Linked DNA regions of Homo sapiens: all the other regions are reported to be linked to region 6. The links are microRNA targets in miRTarBase. Many come from high-throughput screens and were not tested one by one. Region 6 holds a microRNA gene; each other region holds the end of a gene's coding sequence.
What was found. Region 6 holds the annotated microRNA hsa-miR-8068 (UGUUUGUUGUAAGGAUCGUUGU, at 1,612-1,633, shown strand). A microRNA usually pairs through its seed, bases 2 to 8, with sites in the 3' UTR of a target mRNA and lowers its output. Matches are read on the target gene's strand: a 7mer-m8 pairs with bases 2 to 8, a 7mer-A1 pairs with bases 2 to 7 and ends in A, and an 8mer does both.

Region 1 (5,425 bases), not on the chromosome of region 6:
CTCAGAGCTCCTTTACAGCATTTATAATATTCATTATAATTATTGGTTTACTGTTCCTGCCATTCCATTAGACTGAAGTATACTGAATAAATGGTGATGATACTAGAAACAAAACACCTCAGAAATACCTACTTGGCATTATGTTAGACCAGTAAAACTTTAAAAAGAAAAGTGAATAGAAAATAGCAATGTTATACAACTCTTCCCAACCGTAGTTACCTTTCCATCTTTACTTCTTCTACTACTCAGTAGTCATTTCTTTTTTAACTTTATGCCACCTATATCCCTCCTAGGGTTTTTCTCTGGGCTGTCCTCAGTTACTTCCTTCTTCTCTTTTGACTCGCCTCAACATGCATATAGCATAGGAGTCCAGTAGTTAACATCTCTGAAGATTAGTATTGAGTCAAAGAAAAGCATGGGTTATTTACTTAATGAAAATTGATATTCACTAAAAAATATGAGATTTGGAAACAGGATAATAGTTTGTTTACTGTGCACATCTAATGAATGTAGCACAGGACTGATGTAGTTTAGCTTACTTGCTCATTTGATTCTATTTTGTTTGAAATGTATTTTACCCTGTGTAAGTGCTTTATTCTTTTCTTTGTAGGTTCTGGGTCCCTCCGAGCAAAATTTGATCTTTCAGAAGGACCTAGTAAACCCACGACACTTGCAGTACAATTCCTCAGCGAGGGAAGTACCCTTTCAGGAGTAGATTTCGAACTTGTGGGCACTGGCTATAGGCTTTCCTTAATAAAGAAGCGGTTTGCTACTGGTAAGTTAGGAGATTTCAAACTTTTTAATGTACATGGGAAACATTTGTATTCTAACAGTTATTAAAAAACTGTCAAGCAATTTATAATCTAAAGACATGGAAATTTTTTCTTTAACCCTTGGTACAAGGTGCCAGGTAGAGACACACCTGGGAGAGAGTTCTTACGGTCAGTATAGCTGAACACCTGTTATCTGATTCTAATGTACTGTAAATAGCAGATGGGAACTAGAGTTTTGTATTGGTAACCACAGTGGAAAATGTCCTTAGAGTGCATTTGAAATTGTAATTGCAAAGGTCTGCTTGGCGTTTTTCAGGACGATACCTGGCGGATTGTTGATGGACCTGGGAAAGTGATGTGGCTTCAGGGATTACAAACCTGCCATTCTGCATTATCTGTTCTTTCCAAACACTATTTTAACTTGTATGATGTCTTTCAAACTTAGACATATTTGAGAGCTGACTACAAACATTAAATCGCACTTTTAAAGTGAGTCATTGAAATAAATAGTACTGAAATGATTCTCTATGTTGTAAATGATCAACTACAATATTCAGGAAGCACATTTATTCAGATTCTCAGTAAAAATGAAGTTTTTGTAGGATTAATTTTTAAATTATTTCCAGTGTCTATGTTGAAAAAAAGGGTTATAGTGTAATATCAGGCCTAAAGTTTCAGAAGAGCAAGCACAAAGTAATTTAGCTTTCCATACATTTTTAGAGTCAGAGATAACTTTGAAATTTCATAAGTTTGATATTCAGTGGATACAAATAGAACATGAATTCTAAGTTTTGGGTAATGTTAACTCAGAACACTTAATCAAATTGAGCTATGTGCCATAAGGTAATCAGACCAGAGTCCAAGTTGTATGCAAAAAATCTATAATTTGATTCTCATAAACATATTAATAAAGTATAAGTGATGTTTTATATGATTTTTAAAAAAAATTCTCAAGTGCAATGTGTTTTAAAATAAGCTTGCAAATGACAGCAGAGACATTTACTTCTGCAGTTAGTTAACTTTATAGGAGTTGTGATTTTTTTGATGAATTAATGCTGTAGATTTAATTTATTTTTATATGGAATTGCATAATGTGTGCCTTTTAAAACAATAACAAAAACCAGAGATGTGCCTATACAATTTGTGTTCATTAATGTGCCTCACTTTTTTTCTCAGTCTGAATCTTCTGTTCAGAATCTTACAGTGATCAAGCATTTTTATAAGATATTTGCAATTTTTGTAAATATTTTTGGCCTGCAACTGGGAAGGGGATTCAGAGTCATAAAGCCTAACTTAAGAATCCTGGCTCACTTCTTTGGTGATACACTGTAGCCACTAGAAAGAGAAATAAACCCAATGGCATGTGTTTACAGGAAGAAAGATTACCTTCAGATACTTGACATTAACCTCATCAAAAGTGTGTGAATTTTAAAACAAATTCTAAAAAAACTATAGTGCTAAATTGGTAACTGGTATTTTAACTCTCAATTTAGCATTTTCCTTGATACTTTATCATTGAAAATTTATGCATTTATTTACTGATTGTGTTGTGAACATGAGTTTTATGGTATTTTGTGAGGGATGCATTTTTTAAAAGATTAATTTTGGAAACAGAAGGAGAAGCACTGCCATTTGTTTTTATTTCAACAATTGGAAAAATTACCAATTTGTACATTTTAATTATTCAATTTCTACTTTGTAAAAATAGGGAAATTATTTGAAGTGATATATTTGGTTAAACATTTCTAAAAATAAACTACCAATACTAAATAGTAAGAAACCTAACTTTAGTAGCAAATCTTGATTAATTGAAGAAATAAAATATTTCGGATAAGGTTTCATAATTTACAAATGGGAATTTCATTTATAATAATAAATATGAGTGTCCTTTATTTGCCTAGTAGAAGTGATAAATTGTGTTATATATGATAATTTATATAAAACCACTAATTGTTCCGTTAAGCTTCACAGAAAATAAAACCTCTATTACTAGACATTTATGTAACATCTTGCTGTACTAAATACAGCAGAAAATCTACTCTTTAGCAATATATAACACAGTATATGCTTTTTTATATATTCAATGTTAGCCCAAGTCTGAATTTACATTTGACTAAAGCAGCACATAAGATAATTTGCTAAAATGCTAATCTTTACTAAATAGTGAGCTAAATTAGAATTTCTAACTCTTATATTGTGCTCTTTTAAATGCCAATTACAGTCCCTTACTGGAATTCTAACTGTAATTTGCTTTGCAATCAAACTGCTTTTAGGGCAGCCAATATTTTATTATTGGAATTCAGACACTGTTCTTACCGTGTTTGTTTTTAATCAAATATTACCTAAAAATGTACAAATTAGTGAAATGGTTAAACTTCTGCACTTTCTTAGTTACCACAGTCTTCATACCAAGTATTGGGTACAGGTTACAATTTTGAAGCCATATGAGTTTATATTGATTTTTTTTTTCCATTTAAAAATCCACTAATGGTGTAAAAGAGACCAGTAGATTTTCAATGGGAAATGTACCTAGCAAGCTGGTTCTTGCTTATATATAGTGATAAACTTTGTAGCTGCCTCTTTAACCAAGAATTTGTAAACACAACTCTAATAAATGTGAGTTTTAAAGGATTGTTATTTACTACTTTGGATTGTAATTAGAACAATGCACATCTGTCTTCCAAGATTTTGTAAATATTTTTGATTTTTTTCATTAAATGTAAATTTTACATAAAAGTTGTGCTCTTAATAAACATGTAATATATAATTTATCAATTGGTTTATGTGTCTTTGTACTTGATAGTAATAGCTATATCATAATGTTAGGACAAGGCAAGCTGGCCAAGTAATTGGTTTTTAACTTTGTACTACTGTTTGAACAGGCGTACAGATCGAACTGTTATTTATTGGTTATATAGAAAGCTTCATTTGGAGTATATCCCAAAGTGTCAAAATTGTTTAACAAGGGATTATTTTTAATATATTTTAAGATATATTTAAATTGATGTTAAATTTTTGCAGACTTTCTTCCTAACCAGTTGCTCAGGAACACAGTCTCAGACAGTTCAAAAATCATAATGTTCCAAAGAATTAGTTAAGACAATCAAGCCTCCCAAAATGGTAAATTTAGGAAGGAGCAAAAGAAGGAAATTAGAAAAGAAAGAATTTATCCTAACTATTGAAAATTTTGGGCTGGGTGCAGTGGCGCATTACTGTAATCCCAGCACTTTGGAAGGTCGAGGTGGGCAGACCACATGAGGTCAGGAGTTCGAGATCAGCCTGGCCAACATGGTGAAACCCCAACTCTACCAAAAAATATAAAAATTAGCTGGGCATGGTGACGTATGCCTGTAGTCCCAGCTACTCGGGATGCTGAGGTAGGAGAAGTGCTTGAACACGGGAGGTGGAGGTTGCCGTGAGCCAAGATTGTGCCAGAGCACTCCAGCCTGGGTGACCAAGTGAGACCCTGTCTGAAAAAAAGAAAAAATGTTGCCAATCTGTGTTAAAAAAGGAACAGCTTAATTTATCTAGGTAGGCCAGGGCAGAGGAACCTGTGGAAAGATCTGATAGCACTCACCATTCATACCATATGCCCATCGTTTTCTTCCTTTTTCCTCTTCATCCCATTCCCACCTCTGTTAGACTAAATGATGCTAGCTGCTGCAATAGCTAAGCACAATACTTACTACATTGCTCTTATCACAGTCATAAGTAGGTTTGAGGAGGAGTTCTGCTCCATATAGTAATTCAGGGGCCCAGGCTCTTCCCATTCTGTGATTCTGCTTAAAATCTTCATTTGGCCGGCAGATGAAGAAAAAGCAAAGATTAGATGGGAGTTTTTATGGGCCAGGCCCAGAAGAATTGGCATCATCACTTCTGACCATATTCCATGAGCCAGGATTTGATCTTGTGGCTCCAACCAACTGCAAAAAAAGATGGGAAATGTAGTTTGGTTATGTGCCCAGGAAGAAAACGGGGTTTTGATAAACACAGAGTAAACCTCTGCCATGTACCCCACCCCTGCTCCATTTTGTTATTTTCTTTGTTCCTTTTTCCTAATGTGCATTTAATGGTTTCAGTGGCTCTCAGTATTAAAGGTTTTTTCCATGATTTCTTACTGTATGTAGCTATTTTATCCATATTTTTAAATATATATAATTATTTCCATACGCCTCCTAATGATCGTTTCTGAATGAACATTTGTGATAACTCAGAAACCACTGCTTATCTTTTTAGCATGAGTGTTTTATCTGTCAGTAATGTTTTTAGCCTCAAGTAACAGAAACAGAACTAAGAATGGTTTAAACCAGCAGTACCAACCTTTTTGGCACCAGGGACCAGTTTTGTGGAAGACAATTTTTCCATGGATGAAGCGGTGTGGGGAGATAGTTTCAGGATGAAACTGTTCCACTCAGATCATCAGTCATTAGTTAGATTCTCATAAGGAGCGTACAACTTAGATCCCTCACATGCGCAATTCACCATAGGACTTCCGTTCCTGTGAGAATCTAATGCTGCCGCCGATCTGACAGGAGGCAGAGCTCAGGCAGTAATGCTTGCTCACCTGCTGCTCACCTCCTGCTGTGCAACGTGGTTCCTAACAGGCCACAGATCACTACCAGTCTGTGGTCTGGGGTTGGGGTCCCCTGGTT
Region 2 (5,425 bases), not on the chromosome of region 6:
AGGCACAGAATCGGGGAACCCTGGGACAGGAACCTCAGACCCCACAAACTCCTGCTATGTGCTCTGCCAGGAGCCTAAGCCCCAAGAACATCTCCCGCCTGCTCTGAGGCTGCAACCAGCACAGGCAGGGAGTGGATGAACAAGGACAGGCCCCACTGTCCCGTCTCTGCTCCCACACCAAGCCACATGGAAACTGGCCACCCAGCGTAGAAGGTGTGGGGTGCAGTGGCAAAGTCACTACAGGGCAAGGACACAGCCCGTGACCCACTTTGGCCATCCTGCTCTCCCATGACACAGAGCCGGACCACAGAGGGCATTTGAGAAACGTTCACAGAGACACACACTGAGACTGCCCAGGTGGCAGGCACTAACAGCATGGTTGGGAAGGAAGCTCCCAAAGGGAAGGCTGGCTGTTCTCTGTACATCCAGAACAACGCCTGGAACGTGGCAGTGCCTGACACTAACAAATGTTTGTCAAGCTTTTTTCTTAGGAACTGTGGTCCAGGAAGTCTGAAGGGAGAAGGACGCTAGAGAGAGAGTGGGAGAATGAAACATTAGCAGAGAAAATCTAAAGGAATCACTAGCACAGACCCGGGAGCCCAAAACACCCAACAACAAAGAGAAACGCCCTCCCCCGTCCTTGGCGTGGCTCTCCCTGCTGGAGGCTGACTGGGGCCCTGCCCAACTGGAACAAAACCAAAGCATCCACCCGCGAGCACCGTTAGCCGCATCAGCAGCCCAGGTCCCCTCACTCCTTCACAAAGCCCCTTGTTTATGCCCGAAATGCTTGTGAACCTGTAAACTCAGTTAACAGCCGGCCAGAGGCAGAGCTGGCAGCGACCGCAGGCTGGTTCAGCGCCTCCGGGCCGGCGGAGACGCTTTCCTCTGGAAGCCTCACACGAGGCTGCTGCCTCCCCCTCCCCGTGTCGCTCAGGTGAGCAATGATCAGCAGGAAGGAGGTCAAAGTCACACGTGCTGAGCCACTGACATCAGGGGCTGTCCCTCTCCCCGCACCCCTCTCCCAAGGGCTGGTCATGAGGGCTGCCCACCAAGACGGAGCGCAGCAGGCGGTCCCTCCAGCCCCAGCTGCGGGGACGCCACCCAGACTCGGCTGGGCCCAGGGAACCCCAGGATGCGCCAGGACGATGGGCGTTTAGGCACTGGCTTGGGAGACAGACCCGGCCCAGGCCCAGTTCCGCCTCCTGCTCGCTGCGTGAACTGGGGAAACCCCCTCCGAGGCTCGGCCACCGCGGAATCGCCGGCGCAGTCCCCGAGACGCACGCGGGCGCCCTGCAGCCGGGGCCGCCCCGCCGGAGCCTCCTCGGAGCCCGCAGCCCGCTCCCAGCCGAGGGGCTCCCAGGGCCAGAATCCCCGCGCGCCCAGGCTCGGCCGGACGGGGGCCACGCCGGGCCTCAGTTTCCCCGACTTTGGGCGCTGCCCCGCCCCCGTCCCGGGCCTCGGCTATCCGCTCCTCGGGACAGCGCCCCCTCCACGGGGAGAGCCCTGAAGCTGCCGACGCCACCCGCGCCTCACCTGCTGGGCGCACACCTTACCTGGCCGCGCGGACCCCGCCGTCGCCCGGGCGACTGCAGACTCGACGCTTCCGGCGGCTGCAGAACAAGAGCGCCGCGCGCCGGAAGTCCCGCCTCCTGAGGCGCGGGGCACGCCGGGACGGCCGCTGCGGCCTGCCGGGACTAGAGAGGCGAACGGCTCGATGCTGCCCTCGCGCGGCCGCCCTGGGGGCCGCCTCCGCGCGCTCTGGAGGGGCGCGGGTGGACGCGGGACCTCAAGGCAGGGGACAGACAGGGACAGGCACCCGGCCACCTGGTCACGATCCGGAAGACCGGCCCTTACTGGCTGTGACCTTCGGCCATCGCTGGACCTCTCTGTGCTTGTTTCATCCTCTGTTAACGGACATGTTGGGGTTTGGTTAAGCAACGGATGAGAAAGTCTACGTGAAAGGCTTTTTCCCCAGCCTGCCCTGCATGCTCAGGATCGCCGAGGCCAGGCCGATCTCCAGGCACGTGCAGGAGACTGAGGCCAGAGGGTGGGGGCCCGCACCACACAAACTCGCTTCCCTGGTCACCTGTGCACACCCTCTGGGGTCTCCTGGCCTGGAGAGCTGCCCCGGGGCCCTCCCCTAAGTGGGCATTCATTCCTTCAGGAACGTGCCAGGGCTAACTCGGCCGGGAGCTGGGCAGGGGCCTACAGTTCCTGGCTCCTGAGAGCTTCTAAGTATCGGTGCTGCAAAGACATCCTGGGCCCAGCCAGTTGAGGGGGCCTCCACTCCAGCCTGGGGTGAGCTAGGGGCATCAGCTGGAGAACTATAAAGAGGGTTTGCCCTGCCTACCTAGGAGGTGGGCTTTTGGTGGCAAAGGGCTAGGCCCAGGTGAGGCCAAACTGGGAGCTAGGGATTGGCAAGAAACAGATGGAGGGGATGGAACCAGGCGGCTGGGGGCTCCTCGAGCGCCTCGTTTCAGTCCCTGCATCGGGCTTGAAATCTGGAGGCAGAAGGCAGGCACTAAATACCGCGCCACAAATTGTATTTTTAAACTTCTTACTATCAAACGCTTCAAACACAGACATCAAAAGAGAGGGGTGCGCAAAACCCACATGCCCATCCCCACCGCGCTTCCCTGGGCCCCACCTGCTCCATGAGCTGCTGGCATGAGGGCCAGGGGACCACCCCACTTCACACGCATCTGGTGGATGGGACCCGCCTGGCGATCTGGCCTTTGTGACCCCCACCCCATCAAATGCTGTCTCTCCCAAAGGGCCTCAGGGAAGGCCTGTGGCCTGAGGCATCCTCCCCAGATGCCCCCATCCTGCTGCTACAGGGCTCCCAGAGCTGCCTATACACTCAGAACCTCATTCCGGCACTTCCCAACCACAGCACCCTGTCTCAAGTCAGCTCTGCCAACAGAATCCAGAGCCTGCTTTCACCAACCAGCAGGAGCAGGAGGCGCATAGGGCTACGCAGCAGGACCGCTCCACAGTGACTGCTGGAAAGCTCTGGCCTTCACCTGTAGCTAAGGCTAGGGGTCTAGCAATTCAGACGCCTTGTTTGAAAAATTCAACCACATGATCCGAAAAGATGATCCAATGCTAGAATCCAGTCTGTCCAGCTCTGAAACGTGCAGCTGCGTGACTCACACGTCCATCACGTGTGGGTCCCAGTGGTCAGGCCCAGGCAGCAGTGGTCTGAGTCTGCCCCTAACCCCAAGGGCTGAGGACCTGGAGAGAATCTGCCAGCACAAGGCACCAGTTAGGGCAAGAGCAAGTGAGGTGTGGAAGCCCACGGCGTTCTCCAAGGACTGGCTAAGTCAGCAGAGAAGAGACAGTGCGGTGAACTACAGAATTTATTAAATAAGAAAGCTATCAATTGGAACAGGAGGAAAAAAAAGTTTTAAAAAAAATCTATAGGAAAATAGTCAAAAAAGCATTTAGTGCTCATCGCCGTCCCTCTGAGGGGGGCCGTCAGAAAGGCAACTGGGACCTGACAGACCCGGGCACATACTTGAAATTCCTGAATTCTAACCTGCATTGTACAAAATGCCACTTGAAACGTCCACCAGAACCCCCAGCCAAAGAGGCACATCTGGACAGCTTCACAGCACGGAACGTGTGACCTTGGTCCCCGTGGGTCCCGGAGGAGGACAGCAGCAGCCACGCGGTGGCCCCTGCGCACTCAGGCCATGACTGCAGGGACCACCCACTGGGGCCACAAGAGTGACCCGGGAGCCAGAGGGAGCCCTGAGCATCGGCGGAAGGCACAGGTCCCTGCCCGGGGTGGCCATCTCAGAGGCACATTTAGTGTTTGTTCTACTTATGAAATCAAGGACAACCAATTGTACTTATCTTACAACTGATGTTCTGGGATGGGACTGGAAAACATTGATTCCAGAACCACTCTTTTTCTTAAAATCACTGGCTTTTATGACAATGTCTTCCAAGAGCTCATTAGAATCTATAAGATCGCAGGAATTTCGCCAAGAAGGGCTGCATAGAAACCACAGAGACAACTCGGCCAGGGCTGCTCCCATTGTGGTGGCCAAGAACTGGCTGAGGGCACGACACTGGACTCTTGCGATCAACACTTTACTCTGGGTGAAGACTGCATATTTAAGGACACAACTGCACATTTAGATCGAGCGGTGGTGACCTCAGGGTATACACGGAGCTTCATGCTGAGAACACCCAGGGGTCCTCAAGAGTCTTCCTCCTCGTCTTTAACTTCAGAAATTCTGTCTATAGATTTAAGGATTTCGGCAACAAGATTCAGTGTCTCAGCTCCGGAAACCAGTTGCCTGAAAACAAGCATGGATATCAGGATGGGTGGCAGCAGCTACTCAGCAGCAACAGGGTTCTGGGGGGAGAAAGGGGAGGGGTTGGTAGGGGGAAAAAGGGAGGGGTTCCAAGGGGTAGGGAAAGGGGAGAGGTTCTGAGTGGGAGGAAGGCGAGGGTTTCCAGGGGGAAGAATGGGGAGGGTTTCCACAGGGGGTGGGGGGCAGAAAGGGGAGGGGTTGGTAGGCAGAAAAAGGGGAGAGGTTCTGAGGGGGAGAAAGGGGAGGAATTCCGGGGGTGGGGGTGGGGAAGGAAGGGGAGGGTTTCCAGAGCGGGGAGGGATTCCACAGGGGAAGGGTTCTGGCGGGGAGAAAGGTAAGGGGTTCCAGGGAGAAAGGGACAGAATTCTGGGGGGAGAAACAGAAGGGGTCCCAGGGAGCAAGGGGTGGGGTTTGCCGGGGGGAGAAAGGGACAGGGTTCCAGGGAGCAAGGGGTGGGGTTTGCCGGGGGAGAAAGGGACAGGGTCCCAGGGAGCAAGGGGTGGGGTTTGCCGGGGAAGAAAGGGACAGGGTTCCTGGGAGCAAGGGGTGGGGTTTGCCGGGGGAAGAAAGGGACAGGGTTCCTGGGAGAAAGGGAGGGGCTGGGGGAGAACCACAGGTTTTCCACTCCTAGCTCCTCTTGGAGGAGACCCACACCTGACTTCACAGGAGACGGCTCCCTTGTTCACAGGGAGTGCTCTGGGGGCCAACACCGCCCTGCAGAGCTCAGCCCAATGGGTGGCAGACACTCACCACTGTCACAGTCATGGTGGCTGGCGTGTCCCCAGCCAGGCACAGCAGTAAGGGCCTTCTGGGAAGTGGCTTTTTCAGCAGGAGGGAAACCCCCACTATTTCCTTTATTCAGAGCTTCAGCGCCCACATGGGGTGGGGCTGAGGTTCAGTGCAGGGTGCTGTGGCTGTCTGCACCTCCCAGGTGGGATCAGACACTGCGAGGCAGGTTAGAAAGCCTGTGGTCTGTCCACACAGTGACCCAGAGAGCTAACAGGACCACTGAGCACGCGTCCCTCCCTGCAGCTCCCTGGTCCTCCAGCCACGGTGCCATCAGCCTGGGCCCCCACCCAGGATCACTGACGACCACTCCA
Region 3 (5,192 bases), not on the chromosome of region 6:
CATAATGATAGGAATTTGTGTTGATCTCTAACCAAGTTTAACTTGAATACCTTTATTTGTTGTCAGTTTTAATTTGTGTTAACTGTTTGGATTCTTTTGGATAGATTTCTAGAAGTAAGTCTTTATATCCAAAAGCATGGGCCTGGTAGACCCATTGTAACCACTATTTTAGATTTTTAAAATATATACCAACCATTTTGAAACCCAAGATGTACTCACTGTTACCTGCTTGTGGCAAAAAATTCAAATTAGTCACAATTGCTCCAAAACAATAACATGAATCTAGTATGTATTTTGAAGAGAGAATAATGTTAAATTTGGAAGGGACGTTTACTTACTTTTCAAGCCAAAATAAATGTTAATTTTTCTAGCTCAGTGGTAAGCTTAGGTACCTATTTCAGAGTTATTTATTTTGTTTTAATGGTTAAATCGCTTTTTTTGTTTTTGTTTTTGTAGATGCATATCCGTGGTTGGAATGCTTCATCAAGTCATACAATGTCACAAATGGAACAGATAATCAAATTTGCTATCAGATTTTTGACACCACAGTTGCAGAAGATGTAATCTAATATTGCCATCCAATTTAGCATACATAAAATGTTGCCACTCACCTTCCCTGTTTGAGCTTCTTTTCCTGACCTGAGTTTTGTATCAGCAATGTTGATGATGTTAGCATGGGTATGGGATTAGAAAATGTCCTTACCTTAAATCTCTTGGCTTTTACTGGGTGCAAGGTAAATAATGGCTATGGATTTTGTTTTGCTTTCTGTTTTGCTTTTGTACAAAGAGACCTGCTTAAACAAGTACTGCTGAGATAAGTGTCTGATCAAGCTACAGTGTACTTTAAGTAGAAATGGCAAAGTTGCTTTGTTGGGGTGCTGATACTGATGATTTTAGGATAAATTCATTTCTTTAAACTTGTAATACATGGTTTTATTGCTTGTTTCTCTCCAGGATAGTAGAGATTTCTCTATTTCACCTCAACCTAATAAAAGTGGTCAGATTTATAATGTTAATGACTTAATATTATCCTTTTCTAATAGTCTCATGTAAAATATGCCGCTATTACAACTTACAACTAATTGAATGAGATGTTAACTTAGTAAAATAGTTTGATTTTTACCTGACAGTGTTTGTCAAATTTAAAATCATGAATATTCAATTTTATACAAACATTTATATATATATATATAGATTTGTGTATGTTATTTGCCAAAGACAGATATAAATTACCTGGTTTAATATTAGTGAAGAATAAATAAGTGCACACATTTCAACTGTTTCATTTATTTGCCCTAAGTTGAGCTGAAAAATGATATGAGGCAAAGAATCGAAATAGGTGTGGCAATGCAGCAGATGTTTAGGGCTGTCTACATCCCAGGTACTGTGCTAAGCACTAAACATGTATTTGATCCTCACAGCAACCTATTTTTCCGATAAGAAATCTGAGGCTTGATTGATAAGCTGACTTGACTAAGTTCACACAGTTTGTAAAAGCTAGAGTCTGTGCCTTAATTCACATAATCTCTATTCAGAGCCTGTACTGTTAACCACTCAAGGATTCTGGAACAGAAGCTAACAGTTTTCTGCAACGAGTCTTTGACTTAAACATCTGAAATAACATTGGAAATAGATTATAAGAGGAGTCAGTGTGTTTTTCTATAGTTTCAAAATACTTTTAACATCTTATTGTCAAAAAGATTGGATAACTGACTTTCTTTGCTCATAATAACTCTAAATTCTAGTTCCTGAGTACATTAACACATCTTCTTTACCTAACTACCAATGTCCCCCATCATCGACTTATCAGCTTGTTTGAGACAATGAGAAAGACTGATTTTATTTTCAAGAATATAGACTCTTGGTTCAAAACATTTTCAGGAAAAATATTTTAAAACCCTACAGTTGAACAGGTGTGTTTCCGTGTTGATGATGTGCTCAGGATACAAAGGTGAAATAAACATTTTTTCTGCCTTCAGGAAGCCCTCAATCTAGAAGAGTAGAGGTCCAAAGGTGCCATATGTTCACACTGTGAGCCTGCAAGATCTCCACGTTAACAAAGGAAAACTCTTCCTATGAATCTTCATGATGATAGGCCATGTCTCTTCTTATTTTTGTTTTAAATAAACATCCACCTTATCATGATTTCTTTTGGTTTATTGTGGGGTTTTGTCCTTGTCTTTTTAAAAAAATTTTCAGTTTTTAGCAAGAATTATTCCATCAACATCTAGTGTTTCTCTAGAGATGATGTATGCACTTTATGCTAATCAGGAACCCAGAGAGGAGAATTTTATTTCTGGAGCAACAACTAAATGGTAGTTCATTGTGCCCCAATTTGATCCCTGCCCCTTTCTGTAAACACTGATAGAATCTTCCTGTCAGATTTTAAATTACACAAATTTAAGAAAGAAGTTTGTGTACAGACTCACCCTCAGTTTCCACTTTCTGCAGCTTCCATTTTTTAAGACACTACTGGATTGACTCATGCTGTCCCTGTATTGTTCTTAGAATGTATGTCTTAGAAAAATCTGAGACAGTCCATTATTCTTTATCTGGATGTAGCAATGAGAAACACACTACTTACAGGCTTTTTCTGTGGCCACCTTCAATTATACTGCTGTATTTGAGGGAACTATACATGCCAAGATACAATGTATCATTCCTCATTTCTTTTTACCCCTGCTCATGCTTTAAGTTGGAAATTGTTTCTAAATAATTATAGAAAGACTGATGTTGATGGTCTAGAAGAAGCTGACTATACCTCTGTCTACCTAAAAAAGTCTCTTCACCCATTTGGGTACTGGCTGCCCAGATTTCAAATTGGTGTAGATCCTGTGCCTTAGCTACTTGGAGGTAACAGAAAAGGACCAAAATCTTTTTCCTGCCTACTTCCCAGCTGACTATGCAGTCCTGTTTTAGATATCAAAGCATGAATTTGTCACTACGTGTGACTCTGAATCCAGACAATTTTCTTCTATACTTTCTAGAAGCTTTTCTTGGGATCTGGAAAGGCTAAAAACTCTTTTGATTATTTTCAATGTTGTTTTAAATTTGACCGTATATTTCATCAAGTTTTGTTTTTATCTAGACTTTTTTTAATAGAAGTAAGAATTTGAAACAAATATAGGGTCTATAAACTTGAACTGATTCCTGCTCCAATTAGTACCCAGGAAGAAACCACTTTTAACAATACAGTGTATAATTTTTCAGATTGTTCTTTCTAAGAACATGTGAGCATGCATATGTGTGTATGTATATACACACACATATATATTTTAGCATCATGTTAAATAGTTGTGCAACTTTTGTCACTTTATATAGACAACTGTATTTTTTCATGTTGATACATACAGGGAGAAACTCATTGCTTATAATTACTCAGCATAAGTAACTTTCAATGTGTAATTCTCTGATAATTTTACTATTTCTGTTGTGGTTTTTTGTGTAAGTATTCTATTTTTTATTGTGCCAGTTTGGGATTTTATATGTTTACAAAAATGTATTCTTGTTATCTGCTTTGTTACCACATAGTTATTCATGATAATGTGTTTTACTTATTATTTTAGTCTGTATTTTGTCTGGTGTTATTTCCCCTTTAAATGCATCTGGAAGCCCAGAAACCTAGTTTCACTATGTCCTCTGGAGGTTTTTAGGTGATAAGAGTTTTGGAGACCTATACAGACTTCCAATACAGGATTAGGACTCAGCCATGACATAGTTGCTTTAAATTATTATTTCATGCTTTGAAGAATTTATTGTGAAACGAATGTTAATGTAAGAAAAAAGAACACCTTCTGTAATGCTTTTCATTAGGAAATGCAGACTCTGTGAAGGCTATGATAAGTCACACTAAAGTTCTAGAACATTATTTTAGGGGAAATATAAATATCTCTTCCTTTCTTGGCCCCTCGGAATCTCTGGATAGTGTCAACCCTACCCATTCCAGGAAAAAGGGACCTAGTCAGCTAGTAAAATCTGGGCATGATGACCTGTCTTCTCTCTGGTACTTGGAATGGGTATCTAAACTCACTAAGCAGGCACTCATAGGTGCTCTCAGGTATGTGAGATCCTATCTTCTTTTGGCAGTCGGGAAATTAGTAGTGCTATGTTTTTGTTTTTGTTTTGTTTTTTCACTATTGTGATTTAAGCTGTTAGGAAATTTGAGATCAGCTAGGGATTCTAAGTGATGATCATCTTACATGGAGATAAATAAATGTCCCTTCCATCAGGACTGCATTTGATGGGTTGAAAATTATTGGGCATCAATTACAATGACAAAGATAATGTATCAGTGTATGTGGGAGCTCTCCCTCACATGGCCAATTGGTGAAACATGGATAGTGCAGAGATTCCTCGGCTATTTTTCGACTCTAGCAACATCTTAATGAATTTCTGGTATTTTTCCTTGAGATCTAGGCCACAAAGTCACAGTCACATTGGTAGTGTGTGTGTGTGTGTGTGTGTGTGCTTTTATTTTCTTTGTGTTCACTTTGCAGGGTACTATGTTGGAATTTACCTAAAAATCTAGTCCACAACTACCAAAGAAAGCATTTTCAACTTTTGTGAAACTTTCTTTTATTTCATCTGTTTGTTCATAGTATTTTAAAGATTTGGAGCATGTGTGTGTTAAAAACCTTAAGCTTCCTATCATCTATTAAACAAATATGGTGCAGTTCCTAAACATGTACCTTTTTATATACAACCTTGCTTTTTTTCCCTATAACTTCAAAATGGTTTTTCCCTTCTTTGAAATTGGAACTCCCAGATAAAAGCCCTTTTGTTGTTACACAAACACTATTCCTTAGCCGACTTCTGTCCTCCATTAGAAGGCAGTCTTTCTAGAATTTAAAGTCTCTTGCCAAGTTTAGCTACTTCGTAAGTGACATTCTGTCCCAAGCTTTTATAATAGTTAATACATACATAAATAGCTAATGCAAGTCTCTCATAGCACTACAAGGAAGGTAAGTCATTTTAAAATCAAAAGTATTAACCTGTGGAGTCAAGTGAAAACATCGCTTGCAGCAGGTAGGCATGGCTGTGGTTTTAGTTTTGTATAGGAAATCTTATATGTTTAATCTTCATTAGAAAAGGTTCTAAAAAAATAAACACCTTTAAATTTTGGAATCATTAAATATTTTTGTACAATAAAAGGTTAAATGGAGATTAAGACAAAGAATACAAAGTACAAAATG
Region 4 (5,425 bases), not on the chromosome of region 6:
TCTTCAGGTCTAGTAATAACTTAGGGGTCACTTCAAATATAAGGCCTGCGTATTGACATGTGGTTTTAGGAATTCCCATTTTTAATAAAATAGTTACTGAAATTTTCCAAGGATTTCTGTGGGCAATAGCACATCCCTTCTAATTTTTTCTTCCTACCATTTGTTTATCCTGTTTGGCTCAAGATCTGGGCCTAACTATTTTAACACTTTTTTCTCTCTTTTCATATGTACACCTCTGCTTTTCAATCTTGCAGAAGAATTTTGACATTTGCACCTAGGAAATGTTTGTCTGGCTCCTCTTATGTTGTAGAAGCGGTGAGTTTTAATGTATAACCAATGCAATCCATAGTTCAAAGATTCCTAATTCTTATATTATGCTTAAAGGTTCTCTGTGATTCTCATAATTATATGTAGTCAATATTTAAATGATTTAGTGAACTTCATAAGATTGTCACTAGAATTTCAGAATCAAGACATTTTAGAGGAAATTTGTACAACACTAAGTTCAACAAATTAATTTTGCCAAAGAAAACAGAACACTGGGAGGCTAAGGAGCTTGACCCATATTTCTGGTGAGAATTTGGTACAAAAGTAATTTTAGATCATTTCTAGCATATCACATCGTTTCACTCATATGTGTTGATCTAATACTTCATTGAATATAATTAAATGTAACATTTAAAAATAGATATAAGTAACACACATATGTTACATATAATACATACATACATACTTCTATAAAAGTAAACATGCAAGGCAATAACAAAATTATGGTTTAATTATTATTAATAGTCAAAATTCCCCATATAAATTCTAAACATTTTTATAGTGCTTAATGCTTAAATGAAGGTCAGTAATTTTGTTATTATAAATAAAACAGAACCCAACATGTTATAAGTATTGAAATATTAGGCCTAGTGTGATGTCATAGCATAAAATGTATCCCATAATATTTATATTTACGAGCACCAAAGACCTCTTTTCCCCATATCTCTCCTCTGGTGACCCATTGTATCTGAAATCATTTCTATTCATTTTTTTCCATATATTTGGGTTTTTTTGTGTGTGTTTTAAACCAAGCCAGTTTTTAAAAAAGAAAATATGATGAACACCTGTGTGATTGATATGGGCCGAATTGTGTCTCTTCAAAAATCATATGTTGAAGTCCTAAATCCCAGCAACTCACAATGTGATTATATTTGGAGACAGAGCCTTTATAGAGGTAATCAAGATAAAAAGAGCTATTATGGGTGGGTCCTAATACAGTATAACTGGCATCTTTTTTTTGTTTTTGTTTGTTTGTTTGTTGGTTTTGAGAGAGAGTCTCACTCTATTGCCGAGGCTGGAATGCAGTGGTGACAACTCAGCTCACTGCAACCTCTGCCCCCTGGGTTTTAAGCAATTCTGTCTGCCTCAGCCTCTGGACTAGCTGGGATTACAGGTGCCTGTCACCACGCCCAGCTAATTTTTGTGTTTTTGGTAGAGACAGGGTTTCGCCATGTTGGCCAGGCTGGTCTTGAACTCCTGACCTCAGGTGATCCATGTACCTTGGCCTCCCAAAGTGCTGGGATTACAGGCACCGCGCCCGGCCTGGTGTATTTTATAAGAAGAGCAATTAGGACATGAGTAAGCACAGAGGGAGTACCATGTGAACACACAGAGAGAAGACGGCCATGGGCAAGCCAAGGAGGGACTCCCAGGAGAAATCAACTCTGTCAACACCTTGATCTTGGATGTTTTGCCTCCAGAATTGTGAGAAAATACATTTCGGTTAAGTCACTCAGTCTGTGATATTTTGTTATGGCAGACCTAGCAAAGGAATGCAGTGGTGTGGCAAAAATAAAAGCCGGATGTACTCAAAAGTATTTAACAGTTTGGTGAAAATAAGATCTACTTATTTCATATTTTTGTTTAGCACCTCAGCCATGAAGTTTGAAATGACCTGCCCCTCACAAGTTTTCTCCATGCTACCGTTGCTTCTGCCAAATGATCTCATGCAGAGGCAGTTAGATTTCCTAGCAAAATGCAAAATGCAGCAATTCCTGATGGGAATCTTTTTGTCTATCAGAAGTAATCTTGCATAGTAAGCTTCTTCAGGGGTTATATATCAATCCATAGCAAATCATGTTGCTAAGGCAAATCCCAAAATTGTCCTAATTTTTCTCTCTAGGATGGTTATGGCATCACCAGCTTTTAAAACATGTTATGTAAATACTTTCCCAAACATACTATAAATTATCACACTACATCAATATTATAATGCAGTTCTTGGGATAGACAAAGGTAAAATTGGGATGAGATGGAAGAAAACAAGTTCAACAGCCATTCCTGAGAGGGAGAAAATGAGAATATGCAACTGGGAGATATCAACAAAGAAATGGGGAATGTGAATTCAAATGCCCCCATTGCCACAGCATAGTGAGTAGTTGGATCATTTTAAAGGATGTATTTATAAATGAATAACGGTGAATATGATTTTCTTGTGTTGTCTATATTTCTGCCTGTTTTTGTCATGTGTAAATTTTTAGCTTCAAAACCTTGCAAATATTAAATATATCTATAAGTATTTCATAAACCCAGCTAGATAGTGACCATATCTTCAGGATGGACCCATAAGCAACTTTAATTTTTTTCATATATATAGTGACAATATTAGAGTAGTCACTTAAGTAGTTATCATATTCATATAAAATATATTATTTTGTAATTAGTTTGCATCTTTTTATGTTTTCCACGCTAGTGTGCAATCCGCTTGAAAGCAATGTATGTGAGTTTAGTTTACTAATGCGCTTATAAAATCTAATATTACTTAGAAATTTGCATCATTACACGGAATTTGTAAGGGATAATTTACATTAAGATTTTTGTAGATGAGAGAACAAAGAGGTAACTATGAGCTCCAATATAATAATGGTGCTCACAAAGTTGAAGTCCATGTAAGTAAAGTAAGTATATCAGCTGCCTGAAATTGAATTTACGTTCATTTTAGGATTCAGTCATTGGTTTGAACTTTTTTAAGTCCCTGATTTTTTATTTTTTTCAATAATGTATAACAAATATTTTTAGACATCTTATAAATCCATCCTCTATTATTTGATATGTATTTTATTTTTGCTGCTCATCAAAGAATCACTAGATTGTAAGAAACTCTGAGAAACTGTATAATGAATTTCTCTTTCCATGCTTAAATGAATGGCACTTTTTTCTTCTAAGAATTTTCATAGAAACACAACTTGAAATTACATCTATGACTAAAAGCTGAATCTGGTGACTGTTAAAACCAATTTTCCACACACCAGTACAATATTAAGCAAAACCAATATTTATTTTAATGTGTAATTTGAGCCCTGAGGCCTCTCTTTATAAAGAGGAATATTTTTTCTTTTTTTTCTTTCTTTTTTTTTTGGAAAAGAAAGTAACATTTTAATGAACAGCTTTAATGTGAACTAATGTTAAGATCAAACATTGTTTCTAGAATTTGGGACTTACATATTGAACTTGATATTTTCATATTTATTTCAATTTTCTGAAAGGATAGGATAAACAAATACGTTTTAGCATACAGTTTAAAAAAGAAAAAGAAAACCTTTTGAATTAGAAGAAGGTGGAGATCAGAAAGTGTTCTTCTTTTGTTCTCAAAAGGAATGAGGAGAGTCAGAGTGTCGCTATTGCTTCTTGACATAAAGACGGTGTCTTTGTTTTATGTCTTTATCTCTGAATCCCGCAATACCATCACAGCAGAGTGTACTGTACACCACTTTAAATGATAAGAGTTTCAATAGGCACTTTAGTGGAATTAAGAAAAATCTAACACTCTTCCACCGTGATGCCACATAGCTATCTTCGTTCTAGGTTGTCATGTCAGTAAATTGTATTGAATAGGCCTGAGCTTGTCTCAGTGTGATTGTGAAAAAACAAAACAACAAAACAAAGCAAGTACACATTATAGGATGTATCTCTTGTTGGCAGAATAAACCAAAACTGACAATATGATTAATTTAGTAACTTACTAGAAACCAGGTAATCAAAGGAATCTTGTCCCAGAGTGTGTGTGTGTGTGTGTGTGTTTGTGTGTGTGTGTGTGTGTGAGAGAGATTTCTATTAATATTTGTGTTTCTTTTTCTTTTTTAAAAATCTCCCCTCTCGGTTGTATTTTAGCCTCCACGACTCCCTTAAGTGACTTTATCAGGGTTATAACTCTCTTCTTCGCCAAACATGTCTGCCAAGACTTTAAAGCGGGGTCCCCAGTCTGTCAGATAGTCATAGTCCTGGTCGGCTTCTGTGGTGAGAGAGTCTATAGAGCTGAGGGACTCTGCCACGGACCCACTCCCTTCGTAGGCATATGTGGCCAGTGAATCGTATGGTGGGGCAGTTGGATCCACATCATTTTCCTGTAGCCTTTGATGAATGAAATCCCTTATGTCTGTGTTATCTTCCATGGGTGGTCTCTGACGAGGTAAACAGAGAGAGTCTGGTTTTATATCCCTGCGAATTTTGTTCTCCTCAATCACTTTTGGGTTTCTCAGAGCCCCGATGTCGAAAGCCTGGGTATCTTCCTCCCCACCTCCTTCATCATCGTAATGGATGACGTTGTCTCTGATGTCTTCTTTAGAGGTCATCAGGGTGTCTTTTTTCTTCTGCCTTCGCAGTGCTACATACAGTACAACTATGGCTGGAACAAGACAAAAATTGCAATTTGAGAATAGAAAGCAGATAGGTCATTTCATCTCTCCATAAAAATTAAAAATGATTAGGGGTGGCTGAGTTTCGTGAATGACCTCCTGTTACTTTCATAGTAAACATACCATAATCAATAGGATCATACATATGTTTAAATTTTGAAATTGTTAACTAACAAGAAACCATAGCAAAGTTATTCACAAAATGAAACAAGTATGTCTTTATATTAAAGTATTTTAGGGTCTGGTAAAAGTGTGTGTTGCAACAAAAGAAAAAAGGAAATAGTAGTTCTTCCACTCATACAGAAAATTGTAAGAATATAAGAAAACTTGAATATTATCATCCATAAATAAGACTACCATTCATTGCTAACTTCCCAATTGGAACATTCCTAATTTTAAATTAGAAATTTATGTTTCTTATGCGATAAGCCCAAATCTTCACTGTGACCATTATTTTTAAAGGCAATAAATAAGAAAGAGAGAAGTAGAGGAAGTAGAGGAAGGAAGGAAGAAAGGAAAGAAGGAAGGAAGTAGAGGAAGAAAGGAAGTAGAGGAAGGAAGGAAGTAGAGGAAGGAGGAAGGAAGGAAGGAAGATGTTAAGGACCTTAGTTTTATAAATCTTACAAACTAAAGCATTAATTTCAATTCTGTGTCCTGCCATATTGAGAAAGTTTTTAAAACAAGTGCCTAGAATTCAGGTTACCTTCATAAAACAATATTTTAAAATTGTTAATTTATGTACT
Region 5 (5,202 bases), not on the chromosome of region 6:
GACGGGACTGGCTGGCAGTGGTTAGGATGGTAAAATGCTGAGAAGCCAAGGGAGGCAAGAGCGGTCAGACAGAGCAGGTGTGGCCAGTTGCCTCCAGGACTGCAGAGTTGAGGAATCTGAAAGGAGGCAAGTGTTTTGGTCAGTAGGGACCTGGGGATTTCTGAGAGGGCAGACTCAGTGAAGTGCTGGGAACTCAAGCCAGTGAAGATGAGGCCACTGAGGAGTGAAGGCAGGAGCAGGGTGTCAGCCTTTGACGGGACAGGGTGGATGGAAGGTTATTTGTTATGGCGAAGGTTTATGCAGGTGTCGGAGGCCCAGGCAAGGGCAGACTGAAGACACAGGAGAATGGGAGGTTCGTTCTGAACAGCATCTCACAGTAGCTGGTCCTCCTGTCCTCTGTGCCTATGCTTTCTGGCTCCTTCCTTCCAGATGCTCATTGTGTCACTTCATGCACTTCAGAAGGGTGCTTGGTTTTAAGTCCAAACTCTTCTGACAAGCTTTCAAAGCCGTACATATTTTTACCCCAATTTTTTGTCTTTCTTTCCTTATGCTTCCTTAATAGTCTCCTCCTCTGTCAGCTGATTTCCTCACACACAACCCAGGCTTCTTCTTGCCCTTTCCCTGAAATGCTCTGCTTAGCCTCTTTAAATATTCTCTATCTCTAAGGCAAGTTCAAGTTTCATGTTCTTCAGGTAATATTTCATATAACACTCCTTACTGTTAGCACAATTTCTTATTTATTCTTTCACATGTTATGATTTCTTTTCCCCAGTTAGATGCTAAAGATAGAACAAGCTGTATTTTATTTTTTAAAATCCTCTGTAGCAAGGGTTGATAAACTTTTTCTGCAAAGGGTTAACTAGTAAATATTTCACCCTTTGTGAGCCGCTTACATCTCTGTCACCTAGTCTTTTTTTTTCTTTAACAAAGCTTTTAAGATATAAAAACCATTCTTAGCTCACAGTTCTCAGCTATGGAACAGATTTGGTCCACCAAGTATAATTTGCCAACCCTAGCTCTATAGCATGGAATGCTTAATGGACCACTAGTAAATAGGAGCAGATAAAAATAACTAATGCTTAATGAGCACTTATGATGTGCCTGGTATTTAACAGGTATTATCTCACTTAATCCTCACAAAATCCCCTGAAGTAAGTGCTATTATTGCCAGCATTGTATAAATAAGGCATGGAGAGTTTAAGTGCCTAACCCAAGATCACAAAGCTGGTAACTTCTATAATAGTTAATGGATGAATAACAGTTGATTGGGAGTGATGCCTAATAACAGTTGATTGGGAGTAATGAAAAAGATGATATATCAAACATCTTTTGGAAGTGTACCTCCTTACCCATGTTACTAATATCCCCAAAGTTTATTAACATCTGAAATCTGTTTACATAATCATGTATATATATGTTGTTTTTATGGGATACAGCACACATTTTCATAGGCCTATGTTTATTCTCAACTTTCTCATTCCATCAGTGTATCCCTGGATATCGGGCTGAGGAAGCAGTGGAAATGTTAAAGACCTTCTACAAACAAGAAAATCCAAATGGTCAGTTTTCTGTTGTGGATAATGTCCTTCCCTTAAATCCATACAAAGAGAATCTGCTATGAGCTTACCTCTTCATTTTCTTTTTCTTTTCTATTCTTTTCACAGCACCAAAATCGAAAGTTCGGAAAAAGGAATGTCAGAAATCTTGAACATGTTCTGATGAAAGAACCAAGTGACCCAAAGTGACCTGGACAAGATTCATAGACTGAAAGCTGTTGACATCGTTGAATCATATGTTTATATATTGTTTTTAATCTGCAGGAAAATGGTGTCTCTCATCATTTGCTCTGTTAAGGGAACAAATTAGCACTTTTTAGAAGTCTGACAATTGTAAACAGTTATTAGCTTTTCCAGAAGCTGATTCCCATTTTAAGATGGGGGAAAATTAAGGTTTGAGGTTTTAGAAATTAGCAAGTAGTGCATACCCTTCTAGCCACAAGTGCCCAGTCCAGGCAAGTGCTGACTTCTTAGAGAATGTGTGGCCAGACCCAGGGACCTGGAGTGTGTTTGGACTGCAGTTTGCCACCCTGAGAACACCTTCTCCAGGACTGGCATTTCAGAATCAGATTCTTCATTTTTTGCAGCTACGATGTTCTTCCAGGGCACTGGGGGCTGTGACTTCTCTCTAAATTGTATATAAGTTGTGTATATAGAGACCATAATTATATGGTCCTTAGAAAAGACTTTGCTTTTATAAAGCATTTAGAAAAAATGCATACTTTTAAAACAAGTGCTTGAGTTGTCACTTAAAAATTATAGCATATTGCTATAATAAAACCTTATTTATGTCTTATTTGAAGATGAATAGTCTTAAAAGATAAAGACATAAATGGGACAATTGTTATTGAGCAAAAAACCAAATTATCCCACCCTCATGGAGCTTATATTCTAGCAAGGGGAGATGGATATGATAGATTACACAGTTTATTGGAGGACAATAAGAGTTATGGCAAAAAGCAAAAGGAACACAGGGTAAAGGGGATAGGTGCCATTTGGTGGTGAGAATGCTGACTGAAAAATAGAATGATCAATTTAATCTGAAACAAATGGTTATTTCTTTTATAATCCATATAATAAATTTAAAATCTAAAATGTAAAATTTTGAACACAACACTGGAAAGGGTATCCACAGCAGGAAGTCCCCAGTTCACCTCCATGACTACAGGGCAGCTTTGCACAGCCCTCTGGGCGCACTGTGTGCCTCTGCCCAGAAGGGGGCCTCGCCGTTCCACCAGAAGCTCAGCTCCAGGCCCTGGAGGGGCTGCTGCTCCTCAGTTGCATTTCTTCAGTAGATTCATTTCCTTGATGCAAAGCATCTGTATTTGTTGGTTCTGTCATTTGAGCGATGTCTCTGACTTGTTTGTTTTGAATTACATTACAGGCTGGAATGTAATTGTGGTGAAAGTATTTTTATATTGCTGAGAGTAGCAGCTAATCACAGTTACATGCTTCAGAGGACTTATAATTGCTTGGTTTTGTGTGTGTGTGTGTGTGTGTGTGTGTGTGTGTGTGTGTTTAACTGCATTTGAAAAGTTTTATGGAGAATATGCATGATTTTAAATCTGTGATAATGTTACATGCACCTTCAATTTCATCCACTTTAAAAATTATCTTCTCATTGAATTTTAGTGCTTCTACTAGTTTGTTCCTTTTTGCAGTTGGTCGTAATTCATTTCTGGCTTCTTATGCTTTCCTGCAAGCAGATTTCATTGCATTTATTGTGTTCATATCATTTTCTTGGGGATTATTTGTAGGACAACCAACCTGGAGTTTTGCCTCTCTAGAGTACCACCCAGTAAGTCTGGCTGAGCATCTTATGTCCAGTAGGTTCTTGGTAAACATTTGCTAAATGAAATTACTGATTGAAATTTGGGGAAAAGTGAATAAGAAGACTATCTAGGACAAAAAGCCAAAGCCGAAAATAGTATATGAGCATTCTAGCCCAGAGACTGTCGCTACTAAAAGAATGAAGGAAATAATAAAGTGATAGACAGGGAAGGATAGAAAAGACTTAACAATATACATATGTTCCGTCTTTGCTGTTTTGGAGAATGATGGATAAGTAGTGTTTCCTGATTCTGAAGCATAGCTGAACAATTTAATTGTGGTTTACCATCTTTTTGGTTCCCTCTTCAGTAATTAACCTATCGAAAATCTGTCCTAAATGTTTGGACTGGGGCACAGTTCCCTCCATCGCTTTGGGAGAAAATCATTAATATGGCATACTGCAGATTGGAGGGCAGGACCACTGAGGGTGTCATAGACATTAGCTCTATGGAATTCTGCTAGCAATTTCCAAGTGACAGTGAGGAATTATGGATATATGTTGAGGTCATTCAGCTTCCTGAGTACCACATTCCCCAGCTACTTAGACACGGGTTAAAATATTAAGATGTCCTAGTTCAACAGCTTGAATTCCATTGATTGATACTGATAGTGCCTGTCCAAGACACCAGCTGAAAGACTTGTTTTGTGTACAAAATAGTTCTGAAAGTGGTGAGATACAAAAAGGTTTTAGAATCACTGCCCTGTTGAGAGAAATTAGGGGGAAATGATTACATTTAGAAGCTGCTAGAGTTATCCAGTGTTTGCTGGTCTTTGCAACAAACTGTGGAGAATGGGTGGTATGTAATGCTTTGGTAGGCTTCAATCACTGATAAAAGATCATGTTAAAATATCTTTGTGCTTTCTTGTTACTTGGCACAACCATCTCTTCCTGTGTTGTATTTGGAGTATCATGGAGAGAAAATAGATGGCCAAGAGCTTCAGTGTAGGCAAGAACTCTTAATTTTTCTTTAAACTTTTTACTGGGAAAAGTATATATATATAAAATACACACACACACACACACACACACACACACACACACACACACACAAACACAACACACCATGGCCCTTTACCCCGAAATGCTTCAGTATAGTTATTGACTTAAGTAAATTTAACATTGATATACTTGAATCTATCATTTGTATTACAGTTTTGTCAGCTGACCCAATAATGTCCTGTAAAGAAGTTCTCCCACTACCCTATAATCCCAGGTCCAGTCTAGGGTCCAGCATTACATTTACTTGTCTTGAATCCAGCTTTTTCTTTTTTTTTTTTTTTTTTGAGATAGGTCTCACTCTGTCGTCCAGTGGCATGATCACAGCTCACTGCAGCCTCAACCTGGCTCAAGCAATCCTTCCTCCTCAGCCTCCTGAGTAGCTGGGACCACAGACTCATGTCACCACACCTAATTTTTTTTTTTTTTTTTTTTTGTAGAGACAAGGTCTCACTATGTTGCCCAGGCTGGTCTTGAACTCCTAGGCTGAAGCAATCCTCCTTCCTTGGCCTCCCAAAGCACTGGGATTATAGACGTGAGCCACTGCACCGGTCTGCCTTTAGCTTCTTTTAGTCTAGAACATTTTCACTGGCTTTCTTTGTCTTTTATGACATTGACATTTTTAAATAATACAGTCATTTTGCCTCCTTTCTGTTTTCTTCTTCTTTTTTTAAATAATAGAATGGTCCTTGTTTTAAATTTATTTGATATTTTCTTGTGATTAGATTCAGGTGCTGGTTGATGTTAAGTTCCTCACAGGATATCACATCTGGAGGCACACAAAGGCCGTCACACCAAGGTGATGTCAATTTTGGTCAT
Region 6 (5,425 bases):
TTATTCTTAGTTCAACTGATCATGGCTGGAATTTTATAACATTACAAAAGCAAACACACACACACACACACACACACACACACACACACACAAAGAGAAATAAGCAAAAAACTAGAGTTTTCAAAGTACAAGTTTACATTCTTATAGTAGTAGTAAGAACGCCTGCCAAATACATCTCTCTATTGTTTTCACATCAATCTGCACCTTAACCATGGGGCCTCCCTTGGCAGGTGCCATGTTGTTTTCTGCTTCCTAGGAGATAATGGAATTTAAGCTTTTTACAAGTCAAAAAAACATCAACACCAAAACTCCTTTCCATTCCAAGTCACTTATGGCCCCTTGGAACCTCCCAAAAACTAGAAGATCATTTGTAAAATAGCAATAATAGCATATTGATCTTTCTTTAAGTTGCCACTGTTGCTTACTGCTTCATGTTTTTTGTTTCTGGAGAAAGGGGAGGTGAATGAATACCAGGTGGTTACCCTGAGCATCCAGGAGCAAAGCAAGCCAAAGAATGCAAGAGATGTTCCCAGGCATCCCAAGCATCAAAAGCGGGGATACCAAATCTGCTGGCACATTTGAGACATAAAAAAGTTGGAGATAAAGACAAGAGGCTCTGGAGGAAGGTAACACTGAAATTTAGTAGATACAAACAATACAGACAGAAACCATGCAAGAGAGGTCAGATAATCACCACGATTGAGGCCACAGACTCGCCTAATATTTGTCTTCTGTTGTCTACTATCTGAGTGATGGGGTGAAAATTGTCTAATTTAAAGGCACGAAATCATGGTAGGCATAGACTCATAATCACCATCTCTGTGAGTGGTCTTTAGATTCATAGCTTTAGGATATAAACAGAGCTTGAATTCATAAAAACAGCATGGTCAACATTTTTACCAAGATAAGAGGAAATTTACTCCTTCATATGGTATCTCCTTAGGATTTACAGTTTATTTAATAACTAGAGGTTCCAGATTCTTCCAGATGGTCCTTTCTTTATCTGACTAAAGTTTTAAGATCATGGACATAGGTCTAAAATAACAAAATAAAATATAAAATAAAGTTTTATAGCTGGGGTATAAGAGAGTTTGGCCATGCTAATAGATAGATAAAGGATAAAACAATTTTGAAAAGAGAACTTAGGATCTGGTGGTAGTATGTGGCCAACAGAGACCACCAACATGTAAGAACCATATCTATATAGAATCAATTATCAGAGGATGCATTCTAAAATGGAAAGGAAAATTAAAAGCTAGCAGTAACTTGAGCTTAATGCTCAAAAAATACCATACAGAAAAATTTTAGGTTAAAAAACAAATAAATATTGAAGAAGAATTCAAGGATAATGAATGGCTCAAGATGAATATTAAAAACAATGGAAGGGCTGGATAAGTTGATAACGGCCTCAAGATTGACTCCATAAAATTATTTAAAATGAAATGAGCATTCTTATAATATAAAACACCCAATCTTTGGGTCTTTAAATAGACAGTGTATAGATTTTTTTCCAGGGATGCTATAAGGGAAATCCTTATATTGGATGAGGTAGGAAATGAAGAAGGCTATTTTATGTTAGTTGTGAGACAGAGTTCCATTCAGGCTAACTCATGTTTGTTGTAAGGATCGTTGTGGCAATACAGTTATCCTTACAACAAATACTTTGCCAGATATTCAAGAATAAAAATTGCAATATGCCCAGCACTTTGGGAGGCCAAGGAGGTGGATAACCTGAAGTCAGGGGTTCGAAACTAGCCTAGCCAACATGGCAAAACCCCATCTCTGCTGAAAAAAAACCCACAAAAATTAGCCAGGCATGGTGGTGCACACCTGTAGTCCCAGCTACTTGGGAGGCTGAGGCAGGAGAATTGCATGAACACAGGAGGCGGAGATTGCAGTGAGCCAAGATCGTGCCACTGCTCTCTAGCCTGGGTGAGACGCCATCTCAAAAAAAGAAAAGAAAATAAATTGCAATATGACCATACATAAAGAAACTGGAACAAAAAGTTATTCTGTATTTCTTGAAGCTCTAGACCTCAACAGCACAAGTCTGGGGATTTTAGTCACAGGCAGACTCCCATTAACGTGGCTAAGCACTATGCTACCCTCTCTTCCTGTTTCTCTTTCTGTCTCTTGCTTCTCCTATTACTACTTGACTTCTTTTTCAACCCCATTCTCAATTTATCGGTAATTTCTGCTGCTTCATAGTTTTAAATTACTCACAACTTTGCTCACTCATGTCTATTATGGTCCTTCTCTATTATCTCACTGCTCACAATATGATTTGTTCTACAGCACTAAGAAGTGCAGTACAGAAAGGTAACTGATTATCCCCTAAGAGTCATTGGTTGAACTTTTTTAGCACTAAGCTACACCATAGATCACTGGTTAGCTTAAGGTGTGCCTGAAGTCAGATCCTCACATCTGATACCAACATGTGACCAGGGTAGGATCCTGGGTCCTGTGGTAACAACATAGCATTCCAGGGCTTGCCCTTCTACATGGTCTGAAAGGAAATATAGTTTCTCTTAGGAAAGAACGAGGACATATTGATTAACCTGTTTAGAACAGTAGGAAGGAATAAAATGGAATAAATAAGCCTCTAAGGTCTGTCTCAACTCTCAGTACGTAATTCAGACCAATGGAAATTGGCTTGCAAGGAAGATGAATACAAATACCTCACAGCCAAGCTCAGAAAGGAAACTCATCAATAATACCAAATAAGAATTCTGGTGGTCTTGTTAGAGTCACCACTATTGCCTTATCTACCATCTGGGTCATTTCGACAACAACTCAACACTCAGAAAAATGAGGTTTTATCCATAAATGATAGAAAGCATTCCCTCTTCCCAGGGACCAAAATAAAGAGGCAATAATCAAACCCAGCAGCCTGATATTTCTGTCTGGTTAATATCTCAGACAGTGTGAAGAGGGGGACAATGGGCTGGGCTTGGCACATACTCTCACGCTGAGACTGCAAGCCAGGAATATTTTTCCTAGAAAGCAACCCAGTGGGGAGCCTCTGTGAGAGAGTCAAATATAAATTATTCATTTTCTGTTCTTTGTCTACTACCCCTAGCAAGCCTGGTTCTGCGGAAGCAAACAGAAGTCAGATGAAGGTATCATGACAGGGTGCTGTGCATTAAGCTCAGCTGAAGATCACTGTTTCCCAAAAAGTGTGCATGCCACAGAGGACTGCAGGCAGCCTAGGTGGTAGCAGGAGGAGAGGACAGTCACTGGTCTGATTGAGAGGCAGGCCCCCAAATTTGCCATTGCTCAGCCACTTAGTGGACAGGCAAATTCTTCAGTTCTGTGGAACTAAGTTTTATTAAATGTAAAAAGAGGGTAACTGAGTGTGATCTGGAAGGTTGGCTTTGGAAAAACATACGATTAAGGTTGAATTCCCTTTGGACCGCTCAGATTCCCTAGCTCAGGGGAATGCTGTAAGTAGAAGAAAATCTCAACTAGAGAACTGCAACCTTGGGAGCCTAAAAGATAACACTCTGAACAGAACATAACACTAGAGGCAGTGAAGAAATTTACTCTTGAAGAGTGAATACACCCTGTAGAAGATCTGGACCACCAATGGCAACACTGAAGTAGGGTACCAGGATGTGTCAAACCATGAAAACCATTTCTCAACAGCCACACCACGAGACCATGACCAGACAAATCATTTTCTAGTTTTCTATTTTCCTGAAGTTTAGAAATGGGGCTGGACTCTTTGGACTAAGTAAGTAGAAATCTTGGACAATAGATGGAGGGAAAATCTCAGAATAATTCTATGCTACCTGAATATTAAAAAAGAAAAAGAAGTGACTTCACACCACCAAGCTGGTGAAGAGGATCATGCAATTTTCATTTGATCATTTAGAGTATCAACATGAATTACCAACATGAAGCTTGGCTGTGAGCTTAGCTTCATGGTTTCCACTCACTGTGAGAAACTCAGTCCCTAATAGGGCCTCTAGCCTTCCATAGCTTCTTTCTAGTGGGTTTACCTTCCCTTTACACCTTCCAGAGCCTTTGTTCAAATCAACTCTTGCCCAGGTGAGTACAACTGCTTAACTGACCTGTAGGCGTCTTGCTTATCCAGATCCAGTTCAAATAACCACCTTTGGCTATCAAAACGATCTGATTAAATAAGAGAGAGAGAGGATTGAGGACCTCTGCTTCTTGGTCACCTGTATCACCAGCAAGTCAGGTTGTCTTTATGGCCTCCATGTGTTAAACATAGGGCACTTATCCTGAGACCTGGGAGGTTCAATGACCAAGTACCACCATTAGTAACTGCATGGGAGTTTAAAATAGTATTGAAACAACACACCATTCACCCTCACTTGGGTTATGTAGAGTCCACCCTTCATTATCTGGTCAAATCCCACATACAGGGAATATTTCTGTTAACAGCATTTTCAAACCAAATATGGACATTTGTCACAAAAATGTGATGTTTGTCTAAACTTTTGCACCATCCGCTCTTCTTTGGTGTGGGGCCTTATTAGGCTACATCATCCTTGAATACCTACAGATTAGACCAGGAGTCTTTTCAGTTTCATTTCTTAGTAACCTGCCATCCACTTTAAGACTGTCAGGCTGTCTGTGAATATTCTCCCAAAAAAGCTGGATTTTGCTGCTTGGGTCACCTTCAGCTATTTTTAGGAGCTTACTTTCTCATGAACACATATATATCCAAATTTATGAATATATATTTACTTCTATAGCATTTTGAGGGGGCTTGCTCATATTTTTCAACAATAGTGTTAGTGACCTATTTTACAGAGAGGCATTATCATTATTTCTTGGATTAAAGAAAGGAGAATTAAACATAGACACCTTAAATTAGTGTATATTTATCACAAGGGGGGAGGCCAGCATGAGAAAAATGGATATAAATATTTATAATAAATATTTTCTGTTATATAGACATATTTAATATGTATTAAATATTTGTAATAAATATTTTCTGTTATTAAGGATAGATTTATAAATATTTACATTTATACTTGTATATACTTATACATCTATAAGTATGTATATACATGTGTATTTGTGTGCATCTCTCCATGTACAAGATGAGGCAGTAGCTGCCTTGGTGCTCACTGCTACTGGGAGAATAGATAGGGAAACAACTGACATACTCTAGAGTCTTTCACAGAGGTAGAATAGAAGCATGAAGAGGAAATATCAATTCTGCCCTGGGGTATGGGAATGGGGAAAAGGAAAGGGTGTGGCATAAAAACTTCAGATGAAGTGGTGCAAAGAGGTTGGGCCCTGAAGAAAACATAGGTTCTCACCAAGCAGATAGAGATGAAAGGCAAACACCCTGCAAGGTTAGAGTCTGCAGGTGGTCTTTAGCATTAGATGAGTGTGAGGGTCAGGCCAAGGAGAAAGATAAGGTTGGTGAAGCAAATGCAAAATTGTG

Region 1: miRTarBase lists FCHO2 as a target of hsa-miR-8068. Seed matches in the 3' UTR shown: 7mer-A1 at 1,238-1,244.
Region 2: the mRNA of ENTR1 is a reported target of hsa-miR-8068. Seed matches in the 3' UTR shown: 8mer at 3,815-3,822.
Region 3: miRTarBase lists POT1 as a target of hsa-miR-8068. Seed matches in the 3' UTR shown: 7mer-A1 at 1,169-1,175.
Region 4: miRTarBase lists CDH12 as a target of hsa-miR-8068. Seed matches in the 3' UTR shown: 7mer-A1 at 4,065-4,071.
Region 5: the mRNA of ADAT2 is a reported target of hsa-miR-8068. Seed matches in the 3' UTR shown: 7mer-m8 at 4,162-4,168 and 7mer-A1 at 4,435-4,441.

What each region holds. Positions count from the first base shown.
Region 1 is chr5:73,086,979-73,092,403 of GRCh38, forward strand. It overlaps FCHO2 (FCH and mu domain containing endocytic adaptor 2), which reads left to right. Exons shown (of 26, transcript NM_138782.3): 25 at 611-775; 26 at 1,090-3,544. The coding sequence ends at 1,112. Among named protein-coding and RNA genes, the nearest start is that of TMEM171, 31 kb to the right of the region's middle.
Region 2 is chr9:136,398,581-136,404,005 of GRCh38, forward strand. It overlaps ENTR1 (endosome associated trafficking regulator 1), which reads right to left. Exons shown (of 10, transcript NM_001039707.2): 10 at 3,342-4,307. The coding sequence ends at 4,208. SNAPC4 (small nuclear RNA activating complex polypeptide 4) reads right to left here and starts at 1,590. Exons shown (of 24, transcript NM_003086.4): 1 at 1,554-1,590. RefSeq lists enhancers at 1-73, 1,803-2,739 and silencers at 1,248-1,357, 1,428-1,557, 1,628-1,837, 1,988-2,037.
Region 3 is chr7:124,819,339-124,824,530 of GRCh38, reverse strand. POT1 (protection of telomeres 1) reads left to right here. Exons shown (of 19, transcript NM_015450.3): 19 at 457-2,145. The coding sequence ends at 569. Among named protein-coding and RNA genes, the nearest start is that of LINC03043, 31 kb to the right of the region's middle.
Region 4 is chr5:21,747,565-21,752,989 of GRCh38, forward strand. CDH12 (cadherin 12) reads right to left here. Exons shown (of 15, transcript NM_004061.5): 15 at 3,109-4,672. The coding sequence ends at 4,173. Among named protein-coding and RNA genes, the nearest start is that of SNORA105A, 130 kb to the right of the region's middle.
Region 5 is chr6:143,424,969-143,430,170 of GRCh38, reverse strand. ADAT2 (adenosine deaminase tRNA specific 2) reads left to right here. Exons shown (of 6, transcript NM_182503.3): 5 at 1,487-1,559; 6 at 1,665-5,202. The coding sequence ends at 1,708. Among named protein-coding and RNA genes, the nearest start is that of ADAT2, 23 kb to the left of the region's middle. RefSeq lists an enhancer at 2,633-2,702.
Region 6 is chr11:28,473,725-28,479,149 of GRCh38, reverse strand. MIR8068 (microRNA 8068) reads left to right here and starts at 1,602; the gene lies at 1,602-1,669. It also overlaps a transcript of METTL15 not described here.